Homo sapiens: one gene and its partners. The protein of the gene in region 4 interacts with the protein of the main gene of each other region in a pairwise test. Each region holds a gene or a part of one and is shown on either strand. Other genes may lie near its edges.

Region 1 (7,417 bases), on a different chromosome or scaffold from region 4:
TTCTCTCCTCTCCCCGTCGATGACCACCTCTTGGCCCCTGATGAAACCCTGCCGTCTTCACAGCCCTCACTTTTCCCACTTATCTCCTTGGCCCTAGTGTCTTGCCCTCAACCTTCTCCTCCCTGCCCCACCCCCCAATTCCCACACCGCTCCCCACATGCCCCTCGGAGCTCTAATCCCTCCTGCTGCTGTGCCGCCTTATCTGCTCCCAGCAGCTTTCGCTGCTGCAAAGCCCTCTCCCCCTCCTTCCTCAGCTCTCTCCGCTCTCTGACCAGCACCCCCTCCCGGCCAGCCTGTCTCTGCCACTCAGGCCCCCGCTGTGGCTACTGGCTGACACCGCCTCTGTACCCCATGCCCTTTGCCCTCTGCAGCCTCAGCTCCGAGGTTGTCGGCTGCACACCCACTCCCACGATGGCTGCGTCCATCCCAGCCCTCCCCCGCAGGCCCCACAGACTTTGTTAGTTTCTGGCCAGCCAGGATTTTTCATCTTCCTGCCCTCCCTTTCCTGGTGTCTTCCCCACTTCCTCCTGATGCCCCCATCCCATCTTGGACCTGGTGTCCTTATAGTCCCAGGGACCCGTTGCCTTGGCTTGGGAGTACCCGAAAGGAGATGGGAAGTGTTGGTATGAAACTCGGGAGAAGGTGCTGGGCTGGGTTGGCCCTAGAAAGATGGGGTGGGGGTGCAAGGAGTACTGGCGGACAGTGGGGGCAGGGCCTGGCGGTGGGACGCTAACCCTCTTCAGTCGCCTCAGATCACGTTCGGGACTCCCCACCCCCCTTCTCTGGGACTCTCATTAACCGCTTCTCCTGCCTCGTCCGCGGCATAAATAACCCAGATAAATCAGCCGCCGTCCGCCCCCCGCCCCTCGGCCCCTGCACAGCCCGTTTGTCACCGCTGTGTGCTCACCAGCCAGGCCTGGACCAGCCCAGCCCCAGCCCCCCCATCCTTGTCCCTTACCGCCCACATCTGTCCCACACTGGCTCATCACTTGGTCCGCACCAGGGCCAGGTGTCTGGGCTGGGGAGGGTGTCCTCTGGGTGCAGGGGGAGGGAGGCTGGGCATCTTTTGGAGAATGCTGTCTAGGAGTTCAGGGGGTCACAGCATTTTTGAATGGGGCCAGCCAGGCAAGGAATCTGGGCATCAGCTTGGGGGTTCCTGTGCTTTGAGAAAGCACCCTTGGAACCCCCCAGGTTGGATCCTGGGAGGTCTCTGGGTCTGCCTTTGGGGCACTTTGCCCAAACAAAATCTCCATGCCTCCTCCCAGGAACCTTGAGCCAGAAACCCACTGCTCTCCCTGTCTCTCCCCCCGACTGCATGCACTGCCCCCCCCCCACATTCTGCCCTGTTACCAAACCTCGTCCCAGTCCATCTACCACTCATTCTCACTGTCAGGAAGCTCATCCCCTGGGGGGCGGAGGCAGGTGAATTGGACTGGGAATAAATCTGAGGAATGGGGACAACCAGAGAGCAAAGGAACCTGGGATGAGGCTTCACATTCTGACCCCGCAACACCCAGCTCCCCGGCACTCCCAGTCCAGGGTCCCTAACAGCCCTGCCCCCTTTGCTCACACCCAGCTCAGGGCCTGGCCAGCCACACTTGTCCCTGATGCCTCACTGCAAGGGGCAGCTGGTCCCCCGGGAGTGGGTGGGGGAAGCAGGGAGGGGTGGGGGAGCTTGGGCGCAGGGCCGGGGTGGGGGTGGGGAAGAAGCTGGGCCGGGCCCCAGGGACCAGCTGGGCAATGAGCCGGGGAAGCAGCCGGGAGGCTAAATGAGGGAGATTATCACCCAACTGCAGCCGGGCAGAGAGGGAGGCAGGCAGGGAAGCGGGGAGAGGGAGGAGAGAGGGGACGGGGCCAGAGGCAAAGGGGGTATAGAGAGACAGGGAGGGGGCCAGAGGGCCTGGTGAGAAGCGGAGGGAAAGGTCAAGAGATGAGCTGGAAGTATGGGGGCACTCCCTCAGAACATCACCAGATTCCTGGAGATCTGGGAGACTGGAGGCTGGGGGCTTGGGGACAATTGGAGACAGCTGGCTGTGGGGCAGTGGTGGGGGTGTGCATGCAGCTAATTGCTGCTCCACTTCCTGGCAGCCTGGAGCTCCCCTCACAGCACCCCCCGCATGCCCCTTATACCCAGTTACCACCCGATTTCTTTCCTTATAGAGGTTGAAGGCATCCTGCCTACCCTCAGGAGGAAAGAGGATGTGATTTGTCTCATGATGGAGGCCAGTATGTTGTCGGGGAAGTGTGACCCCAAGATCTCAATAGATGGTGGGTGAATTTAGAGATATGTATGCACTCCAGGGTAGCAACGAGTGCTGCGGAGAGTTTGGGGGGCAGTTTCCCGCTTTCTTGGCAAAGCCCCAGACTAAAGTAACCTTAAAAAGCAATTAAATCACCTTTTAAAAAAAACAGTAAAGAAAAATCAATATTAGGAGAAAGGAGAAGAGAGAGAAGGATGGGGAGGAACAGTGGGGGGAGTTCTGGAAAGGTTTGGAAGTCTACCAGGGAGGGGAGAGCATAGGAGGCGGCTGCCTGGGCATGGGACAGAGAGAGGGGGCTGTCTGTGGTCACTTGGCCACTTTCAGTGCTAACTCAGCGGCTTTGTCCAATGCCAATCCCACTTTCCCTTCTGGGACACTATGTCCCAGCCAGATGCATCACCCTGCCCCAGGGGTCTTATCTTCCCAGCTTGGGGAACCAGCTGACCCAGACTCATTGGAGGCTTGTGGGGAAGCCCAGCTGTGGGGTCCCTGGGGAAGCCACTTTGCCTAAAGGCTAGGGACAACCTAAGCAGGGCACCACGCATGGTCAGGGCTGGGTGTGTGGGCAGGCTCCATGCTGGGGTGACCCTGATGGGGCCTGACCTGGCCTTGCAGCCAGGGTGGGCAAAGTGGCTTCCAGCTGCTAAGGGAGCCATCCCTAGGCCCCTCCCCTGGGGCCAGGCAGAGGCTGCGGGGCCAGGCCTGACGCAGGGGGCGGGGTGGCCGTTGGGCAGCGGGTGGACCTCGGGCTCTAATCCCCAGCAGCTGCCGTTTCCCTCAGATCGATTCCTTTCTCACTTTTTTTCTCAGCTGCTGGTTCTGCGGCTTGGATCGATGGAGCCACCTCCCCCCGCCCGTCCACGCTTCCTCTCCCTGCTGCTCATTAGCGCCCCGATTAATCAGCCCCCCTTTCCTCCCGGGGACAAGGGCTTCCTCCCCCGTGAGGGCACATGCTGTCGGATGGGGCCCCAGAGCACAAGCACTGATTCTTGCCACCCCCACCCTGGGGGCATGGATGCATCCCCTCCTGGCCAGTCAACTGAGGCTCCCACCCCCACCTATGATGATGGCCCACATGCCTGTTCCCCTCCACGAGAACACAGCAGACCCCTTAGGGCTCTCCTGCCCCACTCTGCCAGGCACCCCTCAAACCCCTTTCTTTAGGAGAGCATTCGCTCCCATTGACGCCCAGCACATCTTCCTGCTCCCTTCCACGCCCCCACTGGGGCTCTTCCTCTCCCTCCATTGCATGCCCTGTCCCCCTACATATAGAGCACCCCGGAAGCACACCTCCCCTTTGCTCCCTGGCTTGCTTACCCAACAGCCCTCCCCCGAAGCCTGGTTGTGGCAAGGGATTTGGGGAACATTTGGGGAAGCAAAGTGGCCACAGATATGCAAGCTGGCCAGGGTGCTGTCTGTCCCAGACATATGAATGACTGAGATTGGGGTTGGGGGCAAAATGAGGGTGAGGGCAGCCAGCCTCCCAGAGGGGGCAGGGGCATGGTGGGTGTTGAAGTCTGGAGCAAAGCTCCAGGGAAGCTGAGAATCTTGAAGTCACAGTTGTCCCCTGGTCTGTCTAGCCTGCCCTCCTCTGCCCCCCTCCCTCCGTCATTCAAACAAGTGGCTCTCTCAAGGAGTTTCTGGAAGCTGCTGTGAGTCGGGTAGTGGGATCAGGTGGTGGCTGGGTGCTGGAGTCAGGAGTCTCAGAGGCCAGGAGGTGGGGGGATAGAGTTGGCTGACCCTTCATGGGGTGTGGGCCAGGAAAGTGGCAAAGAATGAGCTGAGGACCCTGGGCACGGCACCCTTCCCTGGGTGGCCAGGAAGTGGGGAGATCTGGGGACCCAGTGAGCGGCTAGGGTGCAGCAGGAGTTTGGGGGATAGCCCCAGTCTTGGGATCTCTGTCCTGGGCTGGGGACTGCCCCCTCCCCTGGCCTGGCTCCTGACGCCCGTGCTGCCGGTGAAACGCTGTTGACATGTCCTGAATTATTAAGCGTGGGGAGGGCTCCGGAGCACATGCTGAGCGGAGCGGCTGGGGCTGCGCGGCGTGGCGGAGCAGCGCTCGCTCCCTCGCTCACTCGCTCGCTCGCAGGGACACACGCAGGGGCTGACAGCTGTGCTGGTGCTGATAAGGGAAGCCACAAGGAGACGATCGAGGAGAGAGACAAGCGGCAGCAGAGGCAGCAGCGGCAGAGGCAGCACCAGGGCTGCGGAGCTGCTGGGAGTGGGAGTGACTCCCCCACCTCGGGCCCCCACCCTGTCCCTGTCCTCTTCCCGCTTGCCCTGAGTTTAGAAGAGCAGCCGCTGCCACCACTGCCACTCGGGAGGGCACCAGGGCTGCTGGCTAGGGAGGGACAGGGCAGGGAGGCTCTGGCCAGTCCCAGCAGCCGGGGACAGATGCCGATCGAGATTGTGTGCAAAATCAAATTTGCTGAGGAGGATGCGAAACCCAAGGAGAAGGAGGCAGGGGATGAGCAGAGCCTCCTCGGGGCTGTTGCCCCTGGAGCAGCCCCCCGAGACCTGGCCACCTTTGCCAGCACCAGCACCCTGCATGGACTGGGCCGGGCCTGTGGCCCAGGCCCCCACGGACTGCGCAGAACCCTGTGGGCACTGGCCCTACTCACCTCGCTGGCTGCCTTCCTGTACCAGGCGGCTGGCCTGGCCCGGGGCTACCTGACCCGGCCTCACCTGGTGGCAATGGACCCCGCTGCCCCAGCCCCAGTGGCGGGCTTCCCGGCTGTCACCCTCTGCAATATCAACCGCTTCCGGCATTCGGCACTCAGCGATGCCGACATCTTCCACCTGGCCAATCTGACAGGGCTGCCCCCCAAAGACCGGGATGGGCACCGTGCGGCTGGCCTGCGCTACCCAGAGCCTGACATGGTAGACATCCTCAACCGCACTGGCCACCAGCTCGCCGACATGCTTAAGAGCTGCAACTTCAGTGGGCATCACTGCTCCGCCAGCAACTTCTCTGTGGTGAGTTCTGCCAGCTGGGCTGCCTGGCCTTGGATGGCCGGAGGCTGGGGAGTGGGGAGGAGTGGTGGCAGTGGTGTACAGGGGCATCCTCAACAGGGCTTCCCTTCATTCCACCACCAGAGGCTGGCCTCGTGTTTCCCCAAGCCTGGCGTCTCCCTCTGGCTTCCCAGCCATGGAGCAGTGGCCGCTCATAGGGGCTTACCCTGGGGCGCCTGCTGCTCCTCTTCTTGGTTTTGCTGCTGCTGCAGTGCCCAGGTCTGGGAGTTGGGGTGGGGGTTCCTAGGCATGGGCCCAGGTGTCCTGGAGCTGGCTGGCTTGCAGGGAACGCACGCACCATCCCAAGGCCAGACCAACTGACTCTCACTTTTCTCTTGCTCCCTTTTTCTTCTGAGGCTACTGGATTCTTCCCACCAAACGAAGGAGATAGGGAGGGGAGGTTTGGGGGGCTCCATCTAGGGAAGGACCCCGGGTGGCCTCCTGGGGAGCTGGCCTGGTGGGCAGGCTGGAGAGACCCGGTCTTCAGGACACTGGGTGCCAGTGTCTCTTCTGGATCTCTGTGTGTCTCTCACATGCCTGCCTCACAGACTCCCTCACACATCCCTCTTTCATTCTGCCCTCCAGCCCTCCTGGGGTCCAGTCCCCCTCTGTCTCCTGTTCTAGCGGCTCCCATGCCCAGCTCTGGCTCTTACACTGGGAATCACTGGTTCACTCTTATGTGCATAACTCACCCTCACTGCTGCCCCAGCACGGGTGCATGCACACATGCACACGCACACACGCACACGCACTGCTGGGGGACACAGTTTCCTGCACACTCCCTCTCTCACTCACTGTCCCTGTCACTACACTCACATGCACACCTGCACACCCACACCCAGAGAGCTACTCATCTCCATGTCTAGCTCCCAGCTCTCGCTTAGCTGCCAAGGACAGGGTCCCACTGTGGATGCCATCCCTTCTCATGACACCCCCACCCCCATCTATCCCAACCGCTGCTCCCCATTTGGAGACTGCTGGCGCCATCTGTCACCTACGTGTGAGCACAAACACAAGCACCCTCTCCGGGAGAGGGGTGTGAGCTTGGGCTGCTCTGCCATGCACGCCTCCCACAGTCAGGTATGTGAGGGGGTGGGCGTGTCTTGTACACTGCCTGTCTGTCAGGGCTCCATTCACCCATAGTCACAGGGTATCTAGTATTCATGGCGCTCGAGATGCTTGTCCCTAGTCCACAGTTTGCTCCCAGCATTGTGTGTGCATGCGTGTATGTTTCATCCTCGTTGCCACTGCCCAGTGCATATGCAAATGTTTGGCGTCAACATGGTGCCCACTCCAGCCCAGCCTCCAGCAGCCAGCCCCAGTGATAGGGACCCCCGCCAGGTTCTCACTCACCCGCTGCCTCAGGATCACCAGGAAACATGCTCCAGCCAACGAGGTTCCTGGCCCCCACCATGCCTGCAGTGTCTGGGGCCTCCCGCCATTGGGCAGGGGAGTTAGGTAGAAATAGAGGGACAGGAGCAGGAGCATTGTGCAGGGAGAAGAGTCGGGGGCATTGGCCTGTTGTCCGGCTGTACACCCCCTTTCCTAGGGAAAAGCACTGCTCCCCAAAGCAAGGGTTGGTAGAGTCCCCGAGGAGGAGGTGGGATATGGAGGGTGAGTGTGGCCTTTGGGATCCATAGGGCTCTGCTGTCCTCAATCCTCACCACTCCGTATTGGGAGCTGGGCAGAGCTCAGTCTTAGCAGGTGCTGTTGGGACAGAAATCAATGGGATCTTTGTGTCCCCGAGCGGGAGTTGGGGGTGGGCAGGAAAGGGGAAGGGTGATGAGACCTCAGTGAGAGGAAAGGAGAGGAAGAGCTGGAGGGGGTGAGGAAGTAAGGGGAGGGAGGCAGAGGGTTCTGCTTGGTCTCCAGGCTAGGAGGCGGTGCCTGGAGGATACAGGAACGGGGATCCTCTGATCAAGGCTGGTGAGTCCCCGGAATCCTGGGGATGGCCTGGAGGAGTGTGGGTGGATTTCCCACAGGCCCTCTGGTACCCTGGGGCTGGAGAAAGGAGGATGGTAGAAGTCCGTGGGCTGAGGTTCTGGCCCTGGTGCAGGACAGTGGGGGTAGAGGGCATAGCTAGCATTGGGGGACAGGAATTCCCCTTTGGGATTTCCATTTCCCCTGTCTCCAGCCCAGCCTCC
Region 2 (3,818 bases), on a different chromosome or scaffold from region 4:
CCTCGTGCTCTTGGGATCAAGCAATCCTCCTACCTTAGCCTCCTGACTGAGACTATAGGCATGCACTGACATGCCGGGCTAATTTTTAAATTTTTCGAGAGACATGGTCTATGTTGCCTAGGCTGGTCTTAAACTCCTAGGCTCAAGTAACCCTCCTGCCTCTGCCTCCCAAAGCACTGGGATTACAGGCAGGAGCCACTGCATGAGGCCAGTGATAAGAAGGTATCTTTGCCATGTACCTACTTGGGGACCAATTTCCAGGTCACTGGTCAGGTGAGGGCTGGCAACTGAAGTATTTCACACAGACCTAAGCAGGCAGCTGTGGCCACCATGAAATCAAGAAGTCAACTCCAAGTTCCCAGTCCCTCTGTCTCCTTCCCTCACTCTCTTTTCCCTCTGCTTCCCTGCCCTCTTTGCTCATTGGCCTTGGTGAGCATCCATGCCACAGGGGTTAAGAGGGACCTCTGAAATAAGAATAGTGGGTCTCTCCACACCCACACACCAAAAGATGACAGGACACACAGGAAACGATCCTTTTCTAAATCAATACAATTTCTCAAATTTATTTTTTTCTTAAAGAAGTACTTCTAATCTCTGTCAAAAGGGAGGTGAGGAAAGGTCCTTCCTCCCTTGTAAACACTGAAATACAGATCTGGGAAACCAGGATCAACACACACAAAAAGTGCATTTTACAAAATATCAACTAAAATATATTTTACATGGATTATGCTTCCATTGAAATTCTACCAGCTGCATTTTCAGGTTCGAAAAAATATTTCCACATCTAAGAGATTTCAAAAGCATTTAAGTTCGGGGCAGCCAAGACCCTACCTCCTGGGAGGAGGGCCTTCATCTCCTTTCCTGCTAGGTGAGGCTGGGCTCCTTGGCAGCAAGGGCCCAGAATGAGCAGGCTCCAAGGCTGGCTCTGCAGAGCCCCCACTGCCACTCTGCCAACCTCATTTACTGCCCCATCCTCCCAGACAGACACCTTCCTCCAAACAGCTTATTCAATATAAGGAGATCCAAGTCCCTTCCCTTCAGGTTTGGGATCAGGCTTCCCAAGCATAAATTCACCTCTGAAGCCTCCAGGCCTCACCCAAACCCAATGACCAATCAGGAGCAACTCATCTACTAAGGGACAGGGCATGGCAAGTTGGGGGAGCCCTCAGGGTTCATTTCCACCTCCCTCTGCAGCCCCTGCCCAGCTGTCCTCACCCAGTGCCACCTCCTAAGCCTGCTGGGTTCATCTGCCCTTCCTCCCTAAGGGAAGACCCAGGGCTGCAGTTCTCAGCCCCAGCCCCTGCCCCCAGGGGTATGCCCTTGTGGAAGTGCTCAGCTAGCAGGTTCCCAGCACCAGGCCCAAGCCACACTGCACTCCACTCCCTCTCCCACCATACTCCTCTTTGGTACAGATAGGAAATAACCAGGCTGCTCCAGCCCCCTCACAGAGTCTCAGGGCCAGGGCCAAGGCCTAGTCTCCACAAGGACAACAGGGGACTGAGCCTGTTAGTCTACTCTGGGGAGCAGCATGAGGTGAGAACAGGGCCTCTGGGCAACAGGAACAAACTGAAAATGCAAGTCCTTAGCTCCTAGAGCAAGTGGCTGCAGCTCAGCAGGTCCGTGGACTGATACAGTGTTGATTCTTGCTAGGATGTAAATTAGTGCAATCTACAAAAGACTAGGGAAAGGGTGGCAGGGCAAGGGGAGCCACAGCACTCCTTTGGTTTGATTTCAGGTGGGTGTGGCTTGAAGAATCACGTGTGAAGTTCTGCAAGAGGTTTCCTGGAACCTCCATGTGTAAGGCAAGAGGAAAAATCTTCAACAAATCAGGTAGCAATTTTCCTTGCCCCCTGCCCCCAACCCTCTCCCAGCACCCATCTTCCCTCCCAGATATGACAAACCCCACAATCATCAGTTAACTTTCTGGGAAGCCAGACCCGCTGGGTGGCCGTCTCTGGGAGGTGGACAGGAGACTCCCACAAGTGGGCCACACCCATGACTGTGAGAGGTGGGTCAACTTGTCCCAGCACCAGTTGCTACTGCAGGGCAAAGGAGGAAAGCCAGAGAAAAGGCCTCAAGTCTAGGAAGAGGAAGTCAATGCTCTGGAAGCCAGACTCTGGCTCTCTATGCCTCAAAGGAACAAGCTCAGAGCTGTGCTGGGATCTAGGAAAGCCTGGTCCCAGGCTGAAGGGGAAGCGGCGGGTCACAGTGGGTGAGGTAAAGCTGGCCCCCACTCCCCCTTTGAGGGCAAGGGGGAGGCTACAGAAGGGCCTGTTGGGTCTGGTTCCTGAAAGACCTTGCCCCTCCTTCCCGCCCCCACCCTCCTAGGGCCCCATTTCCCTCAGGCTTGGCCCAGCCTCAGAGAAGACTACTTTTCGGAAATCTCCACCCAGGGGAACCACAGAAGGTACCTTGGGCCAAGCTGAGAGTTCTGATGCTTTTCTTATACCCTGGCCTCCCCAGCTCCCTCCCCTGGAGCCCAGAACCCACAGGGGCCCCTGCCCTCCCCCCCAAGAAAACCACAGGCCAGCAAACTTAGGCCTCTGTGGCCCCCTAACCAAGTGCTGTGCTTCAAGCAGTGCCCCCTACCCCGAGCCCCACTTGCCCATGGGTAGCCCCAGCATGGGCATGAGGAGGCTACTGGGGGTTCTTAAGGATGCGCCCGTGGCGGAAGTCATAGACATGGCGGCAAAGGAACACCAGCTCAGGGTCCGTGTCCTCTGGCACTGTGCGGTGGGGTGGGGTGGAATAGTCTGCAGAGGGGGGAACCAGTGCTGTCTTTCGGCTGGGGAGGCCTTCACCTCGGCGCTTGGCCATGGCACAGAACCTGTAGAGAGATACCATTCACTGTCTTTACTCCAGCCACTTTTGCAGGAAGACCAATTCCTTCCCTACCCTACCCTACCCGACCCAGAGAGCTAGGCTATCCTAGCTCCCCAAGGGGTGGTACTGTCTCCACCCATCCCAGGGATGATGTCTGCTCTGCCAACCACCAGGCTATCTTCTCTGTCACTGGAGAACCACACTTGCCAGGGCCTCTCTCCATTTGCCTGCCAATTCGCCTAAATTTTTTCCAAGAGCAGTAATGTTACCCCCCAACTCTGCTCCAACCATTCTACCTCAGTGTGGCAACACAATTTTTCTTCTTTCTTCCAAAAAATATCAGATGGTAGAGGCAAGCAATAGGGAAGTAAGTTCTGGGAGATTAGGCTCAGTGAGTAAGATCAGGTAGAGAGCAGAATGAGATCCTCTCGGGGAATTCCAAGCAGCCCCAAATATGCCTGGGGAGCCTGAGGGAAGAGGCCAGCCAGAGGGTGCAGGGAACCACCTACCTGCAGTACTCGGCAAAAGTCAGCACATAGCACTTCTCCTCAATGCAGGCCACACTGTTCTGGTCCTGATGTCGCGATGCAAACACTTCATTCTGCAAGGGCTCAAAGGGAGACAGGTGGAGGTTGTTACCAGGGCTGGAAAGCACCTCATTCCCAGAGCAAGGCAGACATTAACCCCTCTGCTGGGCCTGCTGACCTGAGATGACTCCAGCAAGCTTCCCTGGAAATTCAGCCTAAGTATGCCTCACCTACTGCCTCCAGGCATTCCTCCTGAGTCCCTTCTAGGTCCCCCCCTTCTCCAGAATAGCCAGGTATCTGCTCTAGCCCCTGATTGTCACTGACCTCCCAAACCCCAGCCCTGCCTAGCGTAGGAGAGGGGAAATGTTCTTCATCTTTCCAGTTAGATGGAAAGTCCCTGCAAGGGAAAGTGAAATAAAAGGTGAGCCCAGGGCACACACAGATGGCAGTCACCTCTTTTAGCACACA
Region 3 (7,034 bases), on a different chromosome or scaffold from region 4:
ATTAACAAAAACCTGATTCAAAAATAGGCAAAGGATTTGAATAGACATTTATCCAAAGAAGACAAATGGCCAATAAGAACAAAAAGGGTGCTTGGCATCACTAACCATTAGGGAAATGCAAGCCAAAACTACAAAGATATACCCACTAGAATGACTACTATCAAAAAAATCAGAAAATAGGCTGGGCGCAGTGGCTCATGCCTGTAATCACAGCACTTTGGCAGGCCGAGGCAGACAGATCACCTGAGGTCAGGAGTTCGAACCCAGCCTGGACAACATGGTTGAACCCTGTCTCTACAAAAAATACAAAAGTTAGCTGGGTGTGGTGGCTCACGCCTGTAATCCCAGCACTTTGGGAGGCTGAGATGGGCAGAGGTCAGGAGTTTGAGACCAGACTGGCCAACATGGTGAAACCCCGTATCTACTAAAAATACAAAATTTAGCTGGGCGTGGTGGCTCACACCTGTAATCTAGGCTACTTGGGAGGCTGAGGCAGGAGAATTGCTTGAACCCGGGAGGTGGACGTTGTAGTGAGCTGAGATTGCTCCAGTGCACTCCAGCCTGGGCAACAGAATTATTCCATTTCAAAAAAAAAAAAAAATCAGAAAATAACAAGTATTGGCAAGGATTTAATAAAACTGGAACCCTTGTACACTGATGGTGGGAATGTAAAATACTATGGCCTGTATGGAAAACTGTATGGTGATTCCACCAAAAAAAGTTAAACATAAGAATTACCATATGATCCAGAAATTCTACTTCTGGAAGGCAGTTCAGCAGCTTTCTACAGAACTAAACATACTCTGACCTTATGATCCAGCAATCACACTCCTGGGTATTTACCCAAAGGAGTTAAAAACTTCCTTCCGTACAAAAACCTGCACATGAATGCTAACAGCATCTTTATTTGTAATTGCCAAAACCTGGAAACAACCAAGATGTCCTTCAGTAGGTGAATGACTAAGTAATTTGTAGTATGTCCAGACAATGGAATGTTATTCAGTGCTAAAAAGAAATGAGTTATCAAGCCTTGAAGACATGGAGGAAGCTTAAATGTACGTTACTAAATGAAAGAAACCTATCTAAGAAGGCTACATCCTGCAGGATTCCAACCCTATGACATTCTGGAAAAGGTAAAACTATGGAGACAGTGAAAAAACCAATGGATGCTAGGGGTTGGGGGGAGGGAGGGGTGAGTAGGCAGAACACAGATGACTTTTAGGGCAGGGAAACTACTCTCTCTGATGCTACAATGGAGGGTACATGTCATTATACATTTCTCCAAACCCACAGAACGTACAACACCAAGAGTGAGCCCTCATGTAAACTGTAGACTCCAGGTAATAATGATGTGCCAATATAGGATCATCAATTATACAAAGGCACCCTCTGGTGAGGGAGTGTGAATAGTGAAGAAGGCCATGCATGTGTGGGGGTGGGGGGGAGGGGAGTATATGGGAGATCTCTATACCTTCCACTAAAACTCGCTGTGAACCTGAAAGTGCTCTAAAAAAAACAGTCTTTTTTTTAAAAAGGATGTTTGATAGCATTAGTCCTTAGGGAAACATAAATTAAAGCCACAGTAAGATTCTACTGTCTCCCTTTTACAGCAGCTAAAATTAAAGACTGACCCTGAGGTCATAAGGGTCATAAGGATGTGGTGCTTTAATCCACCACTGGTTGAGAATAGAAAATGGTACCACCACTTTGGAAAACTGCCTTACCATTTCTTAAAAGGATAAACATGCCTACCAGATGATCCAGCTACTCCATTCCTAGGTATTTTACCCAAGAGAAATGAAAACATATGTTTATATGAAATCTTGCTGACAAATGTTCACTTTTATGAACACTTTTTATTGGCAAAGCCACATTTTGAAAACAATCCCAAAATCCATGAATAGGGGAATAGAAAAACAAACTGTGATCTATCCATATCATGAATACTTCTCAGCAATAAAAATAAATGATTAATTCATGTTACAACATGAATCAGTCTCAAAAATAGTAACCTAAGTCAGACAAAAACAGTACACACTGTCAAATTCTATCACACGTCTGTTGTCCAGCAACTTGTGGGGCTGATGCACATCTCTTGGGCCCAGGAGTTCCATCTTTTTTTTTAAAGAGAAAAAAAATCTACGAAACGCAAACTGACATATAGTGATAGAAAACAGACCACTGGGCCGGGCATGAAGGCTTACACCTGTAATCCCAGCACTTTGGGAGGCCGAGGTGGGCGGGTCATGAGGTCGGGAGATCAAGACCATCCTGGCTAACACGGTGAAACCCCGTCTCTACTAAAAATACAAACAATTAGCCGGGTGTGGTGGTGGGCACCTGTAGTCCCAGCTACTGGGGAGGCTGAGGCAGGAGAATGGCGTGAACCCGGGAGGCGGAGGTTGCAGTGAGCCGAGATCACGCCACTGCATTCCAGCCTGGGTGACACAGCAAGACTCCATCTCAAAAAGAAAAAAACAGACCACCGGTTCCACGGAGAAAGGAGAGGGCACAGGAAGCTCTTCCTGGTGTTTGGGATGTTCGTGATCTTGATTGTGCTGAGGATTTTACAGGTACAGAACAACTTATCAAACTGGGTGGACAAAGCAAAGAGGAATGAAAGAGGCAACACATTAATAATGTATTATTTCCTCAATTGTCTGTAAGCTACAGAAAATCTGGGGTATACCTGAAGTATATGATGTTTATTGTACATCGGTTATGCCTCACTAATGCTTTATAGGAGTGAGAGAGGGAGTAGGTGGAGGCAGATGAAGGAGGAAGACAAAGCAGAAGGTATTCTTTTTCTTCTTTTTGAAAATAGTTTTAAATACCCCTTTTAAAAAGAATCACCTTTTGAAATTAAACTTTCCAGAATATACTTTAACATGTTGTTATTTCACTTTTGATAATGTTCCCTATCTTCTATCTTCAGATAGATTTTAACATGTTATTTCACTTTTGGTAACGTTATCTATCTCCTGTCTTCAGGCAGATTTTCACAAGTTATTTCACTGTTGATAACATTACCCATCTTCCATCCTCAAGACAGATCTTCACATCTGTCTACCTCCTATCTATCTTCCATCTTCTGTATAAATTCTGACCCCAGTTCAAGATTAGGTCATTTCAATTTAGTCTGAAACTTAAATTGTTTATTTTGAACCATTTTACTTCCTACCATTAGGATTCTCACTCCCTCAATGTATAATGCCTTTTTATCTTTTGTAAAAATCTGTTTTAATGATGAGCATTCCTTTCCTTTGCCATCTTAAATTCAATGGACTCTAACATGACTCCAGTTTATCCCAATGTTCTGCCATTCCCAAGTCACTAACCAGTTACTGGTGAATTAACAAGGGGGATGTAATCAAATTACATTGCTGAATACTGGCCTTCCTCAGATTTAGAAAACTGCTCATGTAGACGGGAAATTCACTTTATGCAAATTCAAGATGGCAAATTTATATTTACAAGAAACAAGCATGGCTTAATTTTTGTACCTTTATAAATACTTGATTCATTTTACCAAACAATTATTTAAAGCAATAAGCTCCACTGAAGTTAAAAAAAAAAAAAAAAAAAAAAAAACAACCGTCACAGAACATCTACACATTTTCCCTCTTAAGTGACAGTTTCTGACTTTGACAGTCTTAAGCCAATGAAGTCATTCTGCATGGCTGTGCCTTACAGCATCGAGGTCTGGCCTCTCCAGCCCTGCCCAGTGCATTCCCTGGTCACTGGGATAACGAAAAGCCCATGGCAAGTGGGGTGGGGGAGGGGACAGGGACTGGTTAAGAACAATTGTGGTAATAAAAATGAAAACATGAGAGGCCGAGGCGGGCAGATCACAAGGTCAGGAGATCGAGACCATCCTGGCTAACATGGTGAAACCCCATCTTTACTAAAAATACAAAAAATTAGCCGGGCGTGGTGGCAGACGCCTGTAGTCCCAGCTACTCAGGAGGCTGAGGTAGGAGAATGGCATGAACTCAGTAGGCGGAGCTTGCAGTGAGCCGATGTCTCACCACTGCACTCCAGGCTGGGTGACAGTGAGACTCCGTCTCAAAAAAAAAAAATGAAAACATGAAAAAGTTCCTGCATTTCCAGTAACGTGTGGTACACTCCATAACTGGGCCTGAACATCTCCTTTCCCACCTACTCTCTTCCTTTCCGTTTTTTAGCCACTACTACATACTAAGGTACTTACAACCCTACATGAGAACAACAGAGATTCTATCCAGATGGTCTTACATTTGCTTTCCTCCAAGCCATTCTTTCACACTCCTGCAAAATTTACCTTCCCCAAACAACTTATTTTCTTCATGTCACTCATTTCCTCATCAACAGGAAAGAAGTTCAAATGTGAATGGCTTCTAAGACTTGCAAATGGGGCCTCAATTGCCCCTACCTACAATACCACAGCATTCCCTCTCTATCCCCCTCCCTTTACCCAAACTGTCTTACTCTCAAATCCAACATTAACGTTCCACCTCTGCACTTTTACTGACACTTCGCACTACTAAATAGGTTTCATTTTTTTTTTTTTTTGAGATGGAGTCTCGCTCTGTCGCCCAGGCTGGAGTGCAGTGGCACGATCTCGGCTCACTGCAAGCTCCGCCTCCAGGTTCACGCCATTCTCCTGCCTCAGCCTCCCAAATAGCTGGGACTACAGGCGCCCGCCACCACGCCCAGCTGATTTTTTTTGTATTTTTTTTTTAGTAGAGACGGGGTTTTACCGTGTTAGCCAGGATGGTCTTGATCTCCTGACCTCGTGATCTGCCCGCCTCGGCCTCCCGAAGTGCTGGGATGACAGGCGTGAGCCCCCGCGCCCGGCCCAGGTTTCATCTTTTGAGACCTTACATTCCTCCATGGCACCTCCCTAACCAGGGCCTCTCATCTTCTCTGCATCCACATAAGGGTGAGTTTAAAGTAGAATTAAAAGCAGGCAAAGAAAGACCCATTGTGTAGAGAATGTTAATACTCTAAATAAAAAAAATAAATAAAGCAGCCCATATTCCCTGGGAAAATGCACCCATAAGATATGTTTACCTGTCTCGCTATTTTCAGGCAGAGAGTCATATTCTGAGGGACCCAGAGCGAGAGCGTTCATGTCTGCTGGGTCCGACTCCTGCGGGTCTGGCAATGCGGCATTCTCATGGCCCTGGTCACCATCACCATTGGCATCCGATCCTACAATTAGGAGTTTACCCCAAAAAGGCAGGGTTAGAAGCATAACTTTCTCTTAAAACAAAGCTTACACTTGCAGTGACTCAACTTCTTTAGACTGTAAAAGACCTCTGGGCTCTCAAGCACTGCCACATACCATGACACAGTTATGAATGAACAACATCTTAAAGACAGATTAAAATGGCAACAAAAGCACAGGCCTGAAAGCAGGGGGCTGCACACCACGGCCATGCTCAACTTACCCTGCGGGCCACGGTCTGCGTGGTGGCCAGCCACCTCCTCCCATGCAGCACTCACACCGTCAGCAGCACTGCTTGCTTCCAGATGTAACACAGGAGCCCCCCACACTTCTGCATTAGGGTTCAGCTCTGAAACCTTAGTTGCTGGTACCTAGGAAGAAATGTAAGATAGACATTTGTATCCAAATGTCAACCAAATACAATTTTACTCATTAATGCAGAGTTAAGAGACATCAGATATAGGCTCCAAAGGCTCAGCCTATGTATTTATACACACCTTTGGAATGAAATCAGGTTCAAAATTAAAAAAAAAAAAAAAGCAGTCAGAATTCCATTAAATTCCCCCCAAGTTTTAAGTTCCTCCTCCCAAGACCAAGGCTTGCAGAGATGGGGAAGGACACGCCTGCCACCAAAAGATTCAGTGTTTCACAAACTATACCTGAGGAATAGCTGGTGACTTCCTAGACTCCTAATAAAATCACAATTCAGGGTTTTACAAACTTGAATACAAGGCAGATGAATAAAATTCTAATTAGAAAGCTTAAACAAGTCAGCAGGGCGCGGCGGCTCACACCTGTAATCCCAGCACTTTGGGAGGCCAAGGCGGGCGGATCACCTGAGGCCAGGAGTTCATGACCAGCTTGGCCAACATGGAGAAACCTTGTCTCTACTAAAAATACAAAATTAGCCGGGCGTGGTGGCGCATGCCTGTAATCCCAGCTACTCGAGAGGCTGAGGCAGGAGAATCACTTGAACCCAGGAGGCGGGGGTTGCAGTAAGCTGAGATCGCACCACTGCACCCAACCTGGGGGACAGAGCAGAACTCCATCTCTAAAACAAAAGAAAGAAAGAAAGCTTCAAAAAGTCACATAAACAAAAGGTGTAGAAGATGAAAATTGCTCCTAAGAATGAAGGTGTTCTAACAGGTCTGTCAGGGATACTACAGGATAAGAAAGCTCAGGCATCCTTTGAGGAAGAAGATAAAATATCTCATATTTTTCACAGAACTACCTGTTCCCATTCCCAATAGAGCTTCAGTATCACCTTGAAAGAAAATCCACAGGTGACCATGAAGCTGCTAGTCCAGTGTTCTGGACAACGGACTCTCAGATCACTGGGGCTGAGGCCAAAGCTGCCATGGACAGCTGTGGAACATGGGCTAAACCTCACCTGGAAGACAGCACAACAACATGATGCCTGGCACATACCAAGCTCATCGGCCATCATGACAGTCACGCATGCTCAGTTAGTCCCACAGGGCAGTCCTCTACTCAAAACCCTCCCGCATCAGCTTGGCTCATTTGGAGTAAAAGACGAAGTTCCCACTGCAGCCACAGCGCCCTCCTGTGCTCACTGCTCCCTGGCCTTGTCCATTTCCAGGCACACTGACCTCCTTGCTGTCTCTGGGCACACTGGCACTTTTGCTCTTCCCGTCCGTCTGTCCAGAACATCCTGCCCAGAGACTGGGGACTGGTGGTCCTTCCTGACACAGCGAATAAACCCACAAAAGTCCCCCACCATGTGGATACTCCCTACTCCCCTGATTTTTCTGATACAAGCCTTTCTTATGCTTACACAAGCACTCCCCAAAGCCTAAAGAAAAGT
Region 4 (7,034 bases):
CGATCTCGGCTCACGGCAACCTCCACCTCCTGGGTTCAAGCAATTCTCTTGCCTCGGTTTCCCAAGTATATGGGACTACAGGCACGCACCAGCACGCCCAGCTAATTTTTGTATATTTTAGTAGAGATGGGGTTTCACTATATGTTAGCCAGGCTGGACTTGACCTCCTGACCTCAAGTGATCCGCCCGCCTTGGCCTCCCAAAGTGCTGAGATTACAGGCATGAGCCACTGCGTCCGGCCAAAATTGAGAACTATATGGCAGTTAGTTTAAGAAAGAAACTTAATAAACAGGGAAAAGTATTAGCCATTTATGACAAAGACATGATATTCCTAAAATCCATATTTTTGTTTTGTTGTTTATTTTGAGACAGAGTCTTGCTCTGTTGCCCAGGCTGGAGTGCAGTGGTGCGATCTCGACTCACAGCAGCCTCGATCTCCCAGCTCAAGCCATCCTCCCACCTTAACCTCCTGAGTTGCTGGGACTACAGGTGTGGGTCACCACGCCTGGCTAATTTTGTATTTTTTGTAGAGACGGAGTTTTGCCGCATTACCCAGGCTGATCTCCAACTCCTGGGCTTGAGCAATCTGCCCACCCCAGCCTCCGAAAATGCTGGGATTAACAGGTGTGATCCACTGCGCCCAGCTTCATGATTTTTAAAAAATGTCCCAGATTAGGTTGGCAGAGATGGGAAATTGCTGACACCTAGTGTTGGCAAAGATTGAGGAAAATAAGCTATCATGCTTTTTTTTCCCCCCACTCAGGTGATCTGCCTTCCTCGGCCTCCCAATGTGCTGGGATTACAGGCGTGTGCCACTGCGCCTGGCCCATATTAACTCTTATATAGCCATAGTCCTTCATGCTCCCCTCTTTGGGAAATTTTGTACCTCATTTGTACTAGGTAACTGCTTCAGAATTTTAAGAGGTACTCTGGTACGGTTACTACCCTATTTTTTAAAGGTAGATCTTGTGTAAATTCAGTGGGTGCCAAATAAACTATACTATATATAGTTCAAATTCCTTTACAATGAAATTTCTATAGAATTTTTTTTATGATTGACATATTTCCCAATAGTATTTGGTAAATTCTTACTTACATTTGGAAAGCATTTTCTTGATTTTGGGGTTTATTTTTCCCTAATTTATTTTTCTAGGTTCAAAAGCTGTCTAAGAATGAAGTGCTCATGGTGAACATAGGATCCCTGTCAACAGGAGGGAGAGTTAGTGCTGTCAAGGCCGATTTGGGTAAAATTGTTTTGACCAATCCAGTGTGCACAGAGGTAGGAGAAAAAATTGCCCTTAGCCGAAGAGTTGAAAAACACTGGCGGTAAGTTTGTTAGTCTTTGCCACTGTCTAATTAAAAAAAGACACAGTCTTGTACAGAAAAAAAAGCACACAATCTTCCTTGAGGACAACAGTTACTGTGGCTTTCAGTCTCAACTATTTATTTGGATGACTTTGAAAACTATACTTCGGCCGGGTGCGGTGGCTCACGCCTGTAATCCCAGCACTTTGGGAGGCCTAGGCGGGTGGATCATGAGGTCAGGAGATCAAGACCATCCTGGCTAACATGGTGAAACCCCGTCTCTACTAAAAAATACAAAAAATTAGCCGGGCGTGGTGGCGGGCGCCTGTAGTCCCAGCTACTCGGGAGGCTGAGGCAGGAGAATGGCGTGAACCTGGGAGTCGGAGCTTGCAGTGAGCCGAGATGGCGCCACTGCACTCCAGCCTGGGCGACAGAGCGAGACTCCGTCTCAGAAAAAACTACAACCTTGACTATAGTCCCATATTTTAGTCCAAATACTGTGATTGGCTTCTCTTCCTGTTAGACACAACCTATGCAAAACCAAATGAATTTGGGTTCGGTATTTCTATCGTCATTGGCTTTGGAAATCATTTCACACTTAATAGAAAAATTGTAAGAGTTTTACAGAAAACTCCTCTATAGCTTTTTCCTAGATTGACAAACACACATACAGATTTATTTACATATATAAGTTTTTTTCTGAACCATTTGAGTGTAGGCTATATATGTTATGCTTCTTGATCTCTTAATACTTCAGTGTATATTTCCCATCAAAAAAGGATATTCTTATGTAACCACTTAGAAATTTAACATTGGCAAAATACTGAAATCTACAGTGCATGTTTCAGTTTTATTACTTGTCCCAATAATGTACTTTATGTTCCTCCTGTTTAGAATCTTGAATTGCATTTAATTTCATGTCTCTTTGATCTTTAATCTGGAGCTTTTTCAGCCTTTGTCTTAATTGACATTAACAGTTCTGAAGAATACAAACTAGTTACTTTATAGAATATTCCTCAATTTGGGTTTTTCTTATCATTCGGAAGCCTAACATTAGATTCAGTTATATATTCTTAACTTAAATACACCGTGAAGTCTCCTTTTCAGGAATCACAGCTAGAGGCACATGATATCTGACTGCTCCTCTTTGTTAAGGTTAGTTTTGACTATGTAGTCAAGATGTTGTCCAGCTTCTCTGCTGTGTAGTTACTCTCTACCCTTGCAACTAATAAGCAATCTGTAGGGAGATCTTTCTAGCCAGTACAAATAGCCTGCTGATCATTGAATCCCACACCCCTGGATGTAGCATCCACTGATGATTCTTGCCTGAATCGAACTTGACTATAATGATTACAAAATCATAGCACCTCTACGGGTTGCAGTATCCTCCCTCAACTCTACCACCCCACATTTATCATTTGGCATTCTTTCTTTGCCATTATTTATTTCCCTATCTAGTTATAATATGGACTCATGGAGTCCTATTTTATTCAACATGTTATGATCCATCACTGTCTTCCTTTATTTTGATGTGCATTGTTCGACGTTTGGCCAGTGGAGGTCCTTCAGGCTGGCTCTTGTGTCCTTTTGACATGTACTCATCATTTTTTTTTCTTCTTCTTTTTTTTTTTTTTTTTTTTTGAGATGGAGTCTTGCTTTGTCGCCGGGGTAGAATGCAGTGGCATGATCTCAGCTCACTGCAACCTCTGCCTCCCAGGTTCAAGCAATTCTCCTGCCTCAGCCTCCCGAGTAGCTGGGACTACAGGCACACGCCACCACACCCGGCTAATTTTTGTATTTTCAGTAGAGACGGGGTTTCACCACGTTGGCCAGCCTGGTCTTTAACCCCCGACCTCAGGTGATCCGCCCTCCTTGGCCTCCCAAAGTGCTGGGATTACAGGCATGAGCCACCACGCCTGACCTCTTTCTTCTTTTTTTTGGAACATTTCCTTATTTTCTGGCACAAAATCTTCCAGACTCATCTTGTACCTTCTCTGTTCCAGTTTTAGAACTGGCCATTTCTCTTATAAATGAAAAGCTGAGTGTTCAGGTGTGCTCATGGCTCTTAGGGTGCTGTTGCTTCTAGGTCTTTTGAGAGCATAGAGCCAGGAAGCATACACACATTTTTGGCTCCTGACTTTTTGCTCTTTCCCAGGTTATTGAGTTTGCCCCTTGCTTTCCATTCCTCGTCACCTCATCACAGTCCATACCACCATCACTTTACACTTCACAGTTAGTGCGAAAGACTCCTAGTTTGCCTCTTAACTTGGTCAAAATTAGTCTTCTTAAAACATTTTCATCATGCTGTGTTTAATAATTTCTAGAGTCTTCTCACTACTTTTTGATATTTGGGACTTTTCTAGAAACCTGCTTCAACCCATTTAAGCTTTCCTTCTGCATTGTCTTATATAAACCCTCTAAATTAGACTGTTTTGTGCCCTAACTGTCCCCATAATTATTCACATCACCCCTACCCACTATCTACTTCCTTAATTATTTATTTTATATTTTTTAGAGGCAGGGTCTCTCTGTTGACCAGGCTGGAGTTTAGTGGCATGATCATAGCTCACTGCAGCCTCAGTGTCTAAGTAGCTAGGACTATTGGCTCACACCACCGTGATCAGCTAATTTTTTTGTTTTTTGTAGACACTTGGTCTCACTGTGTTGCCCAGCATGATCTCAAACTCCTGGCCTCAAGCCATCCTCCCACCTCAGCCTCTCAAAGTGTTGGGATTACAGACATGAGCCACCCCGCCCAGCCCTGTTTCCTTTATTAAGGCTTCCATGCTACTGTGCCCACGATGGTCTCATCACTTGTCCAGGAGATTTATCTGAATTATTGCCCTGTAATTTAGAAAGTTAAATTTTTGTTGTCTCTTAAGTAAATAATTATTTGTGGTGACTTATGCCCTTTTGATTTTACTGTCTTTTGTGATTATATTTTTTTGCTATTACAGACACACGACTTCCAGTGTATTTTGAAATAGATTTAAGCAATAAACTTTCAGTCCAGGCACGGTGGCTCATGCCTGTAAGCCCAGCACTTTGTGAGGCCGAGGTGGGCGGATCACTTGAGGCCAGGAGTTCGCAACCAGCCTGGCCGACATAGTGAAACCCCATCTCTACTAAAAATACCAAAAAATCAGCCGGGCATGGTGGCGCATGCCTGTAGTCCCAGCTACTCGGGAGGCTGAGGCATGAGAATTGTTTGAACCCAGGAGCCAGAGGTTGCAGTGAGCCGAGATCGTACCACCGCACTCCAGACTGGGTGACAGAGTGAGACTGTCTCAGAAAAAACACACAAAAGCAAGAATAAAAAAGAATCTAAGAATATAGTGTGGGCTTTCTTTATGGAGGAGCAGGCTTTGGGAACAAATTTGAATTCAGAAGATAAGCAGGTAAAATTTATCACAAGATTGTGTGGTAATGAGAGTGAAGTGGATGTAAGATTTATGATTTCTTTTATTTTCATTTTGCAGTTTAATTGGTTGGGGTCAGATAAGAAGAGGAGTGACAATCAAGCCAACAGTAGATGATGACTGAAGAATACCAGTTAAATAATACATTCGGATGGATTTGGAAGTTGGAATTCCTCTTAACAACCAAGGGGTTTATTTTCAAAGCAATATTGGGGAATTGATTTCACAGTTCGTTACCTTAGTAGGTAACGGTAAGGTTATTCTCTTTTTTTTTTTTTTTTTTTTTGGTTATGAAAACTTAGGGACTAAAATTAATATAAAAATTGGCATAATGTTGGATTGAATCTACATTTTGGCAGAAGTTAAACATTCCCACATAATGTCAAAATTATACATCATGCAGTTCTGTTTTTTTGTTTGTTTTATTTTGTTTTGTTTTTGAGTCTGGCTCTGTCACCCAGGCTGGAGTGCAGTGGCGTGATCTGCAACCTCTGCCCCCCGGGTTCAAGCGATTCTCCTGCCTCAGCCTCCCGAGTAGCTGAGATTACAGGTGCGCGCCACCACACTTGGCTAATTTTTGTATTATTAGTAGAGACGGGGTTTCAGCATGTTGGCTAGGCCGGTCTCTCCTGACCTCAGGGTGATCAGCCCACCTCGGCCTCACAAAGTGCTGGGATTACAGGCGTGAGCCACCTTGCCCAGCCCACATCATACAGTTTGAAATGAAACTTTGCCACAACCAGCCTTTGCTGTAGCACACACATATATCACTGAACCTGTTTGAAATAAAGTTTTTTTTCTTTTTCATGATTCGTCTTTGAGTACCTCCAGGCTGAAAGACTGTTGTACCAGTAAAAACTTAAAGGCACAAATTCTCCTTGAAGACCTTCTCCCTTTTATGTGGCCCCATATTTTATGTTGCTTTATCTTTGAAATTTTGCATGAAAAGGAAATGAATGGATTCGAATGAAATTGTCCTTTAGAGCATGATTACTTGTTCCCATGGACAAATATTTTTCTCCCCTTGCTCTTCCTGGCCTGAAACACGGGAAACCAGAGTCAAAAGTTATCTCCCTCTCCCTGTGATGCCTTGAGATTTTTTTCTGCGTTGTTTAATGCCTGAAATCCAAGTCTTCCTCCATGGGAAAATACTGTTATACCAAATAATTCTAGATGAGTAACAAAGATCTTTTTAGGCCTTCATTTTATGTTTTTTCTTAACTGTTATATTATGATTGTGACATAGATTATACTACTACTAATTTTTGGATGTTTCAAAAGGTCAAGAAGTAAAAGATGTTAGAAAGCAATGAGTGAGTCCTTTTGATTTTTAACTTATTCCCCATGTCCCTATACTTCGTGTGCTTTTCCTTTTTTTTTTTGAGACGGAGGCTCACTCCGTCACCTAGGCTAGAGTACAGTGGCACGATCTTGGCTCGCTGCAACCTCTGCCTCCCTGATTCAAGTGATTCTCGTGCTTCAGCCTCCCATGTAGCTGATATTACAGGCACTTGCCACCATACCCGGCTAATTTTTGTATTTTTAGTAGAGATGGGGTTTCACCATGTTGCCCAGGCTGGTCTTGAACTCCTAACCTCAGGTGATCCGCCCGCCTCTGCCTTCCAAAGTGCTGGGATTACAGGCGTGAGCCACTCTGCCCGGCTTATTTTTCTTTATGTTTTTGCTTCGTAAGAGGTTCTGTTGAGCAGTGATTTGCAACTCTTGCTGACGTTGCTGGGGAAGCTTTAAAAAAAAAAAAGATGCCCCACAGAGATTCTGATTTTAATTGTTCTGATTTAATTGGCTTGGAGTAGAATTCAGGCATTGATATCTTTAAAAACTCCCCAGTGTTGAGAAACAAATTTAGAGAGTTGAGAAGTAGGTATATTAAATTACAGAATCTTACTGAGTTTTGGTAGACTGATAATACAATTTGCTTTGCTTTTCTTAAATTTGCATTGAGATGGGATTTGAAGCATATTGTGCTCTTGTGAATGTTGAAGTTGCATTGTAGAAGTTTAGAAGCTCTGGCTATGGGTTGCCTAAATTGATGTTTTGAGGAAGCATATTAATGTTATAAACTTCGCTGACTTTGAAGGTTGTGTTGTAGCATGAGGAACACAAATAAAACAATTCTAAATCAAACTAATTTTATATCTAACATGTCCCCATGTGTTTTGTAGGTACCTTCTACCAGAAATTTTGGAATAAGACTTAAAATATAGACATTGTAATTAATCTCATGTAAGATTTGAAACCAGAATTCTATTATAATTAATTTCAGACATCCACATGAATTAGCAAATTTGT

Evidence for each region.
Region 1: the proteins of EIF2S3 (region 4) and ASIC4 interact in binary tests that used the Homo sapiens proteins (3 or more experiments, as listed by UniProt).
Region 2: the proteins of EIF2S3 (region 4) and BAHD1 interact in binary tests that used the Homo sapiens proteins (3 or more experiments, as listed by UniProt).
Region 3: the proteins of EIF2S3 (region 4) and LARP4B interact in binary tests that used the Homo sapiens proteins (3 or more experiments, as listed by UniProt).

What each region holds. Positions count from the first base shown.
Region 1 is NC_000002.12:219,510,070-219,517,486, forward strand, and holds the start of ASIC4 (acid-sensing ion channel 4), read left to right. Parts: upstream 1-4,655; coding exon 4,656-5,237; intron 5,238-6,626; exon of another isoform or gene 6,627-7,017; intron 7,018-7,135; exon of another isoform or gene 7,136-7,199; intron 7,200-7,417. UniProt on the Homo sapiens protein: Does not exhibit measurable stand-alone pH-gated sodium channel activity but may form pH-gated heterotrimeric sodium channels. Its activity could also depend on alternative gating mechanisms.
Region 2 is NC_000015.10:40,464,950-40,468,767, reverse strand, and holds the end of BAHD1 (bromo adjacent homology domain-containing 1 protein), read right to left. Parts: intron 3,434-3,818; coding exon 3,333-3,433; intron 2,828-3,332; coding exon 2,638-2,827; 3' UTR 532-2,637; downstream 1-531.
Region 3 is NC_000010.11:858,691-865,724, forward strand, and holds part of LARP4B (la-related protein 4B), read right to left. Parts: intron 5,581-7,034; coding exon 5,433-5,580; intron 5,194-5,432; coding exon 5,053-5,193; intron 1-5,052. UniProt on the Homo sapiens protein: Stimulates mRNA translation.
Region 4 is NC_000023.11:24,071,938-24,078,971, forward strand, and holds the end of EIF2S3 (eukaryotic translation initiation factor 2 subunit 3), read left to right. Parts: intron 1-1,153; coding exon 1,154-1,326; intron 1,327-4,784; coding exon 4,785-4,848; 3' UTR 4,849-6,873; downstream 6,874-7,034. UniProt on the Homo sapiens protein: Member of the eIF2 complex that functions in the early steps of protein synthesis by forming a ternary complex with GTP and initiator tRNA.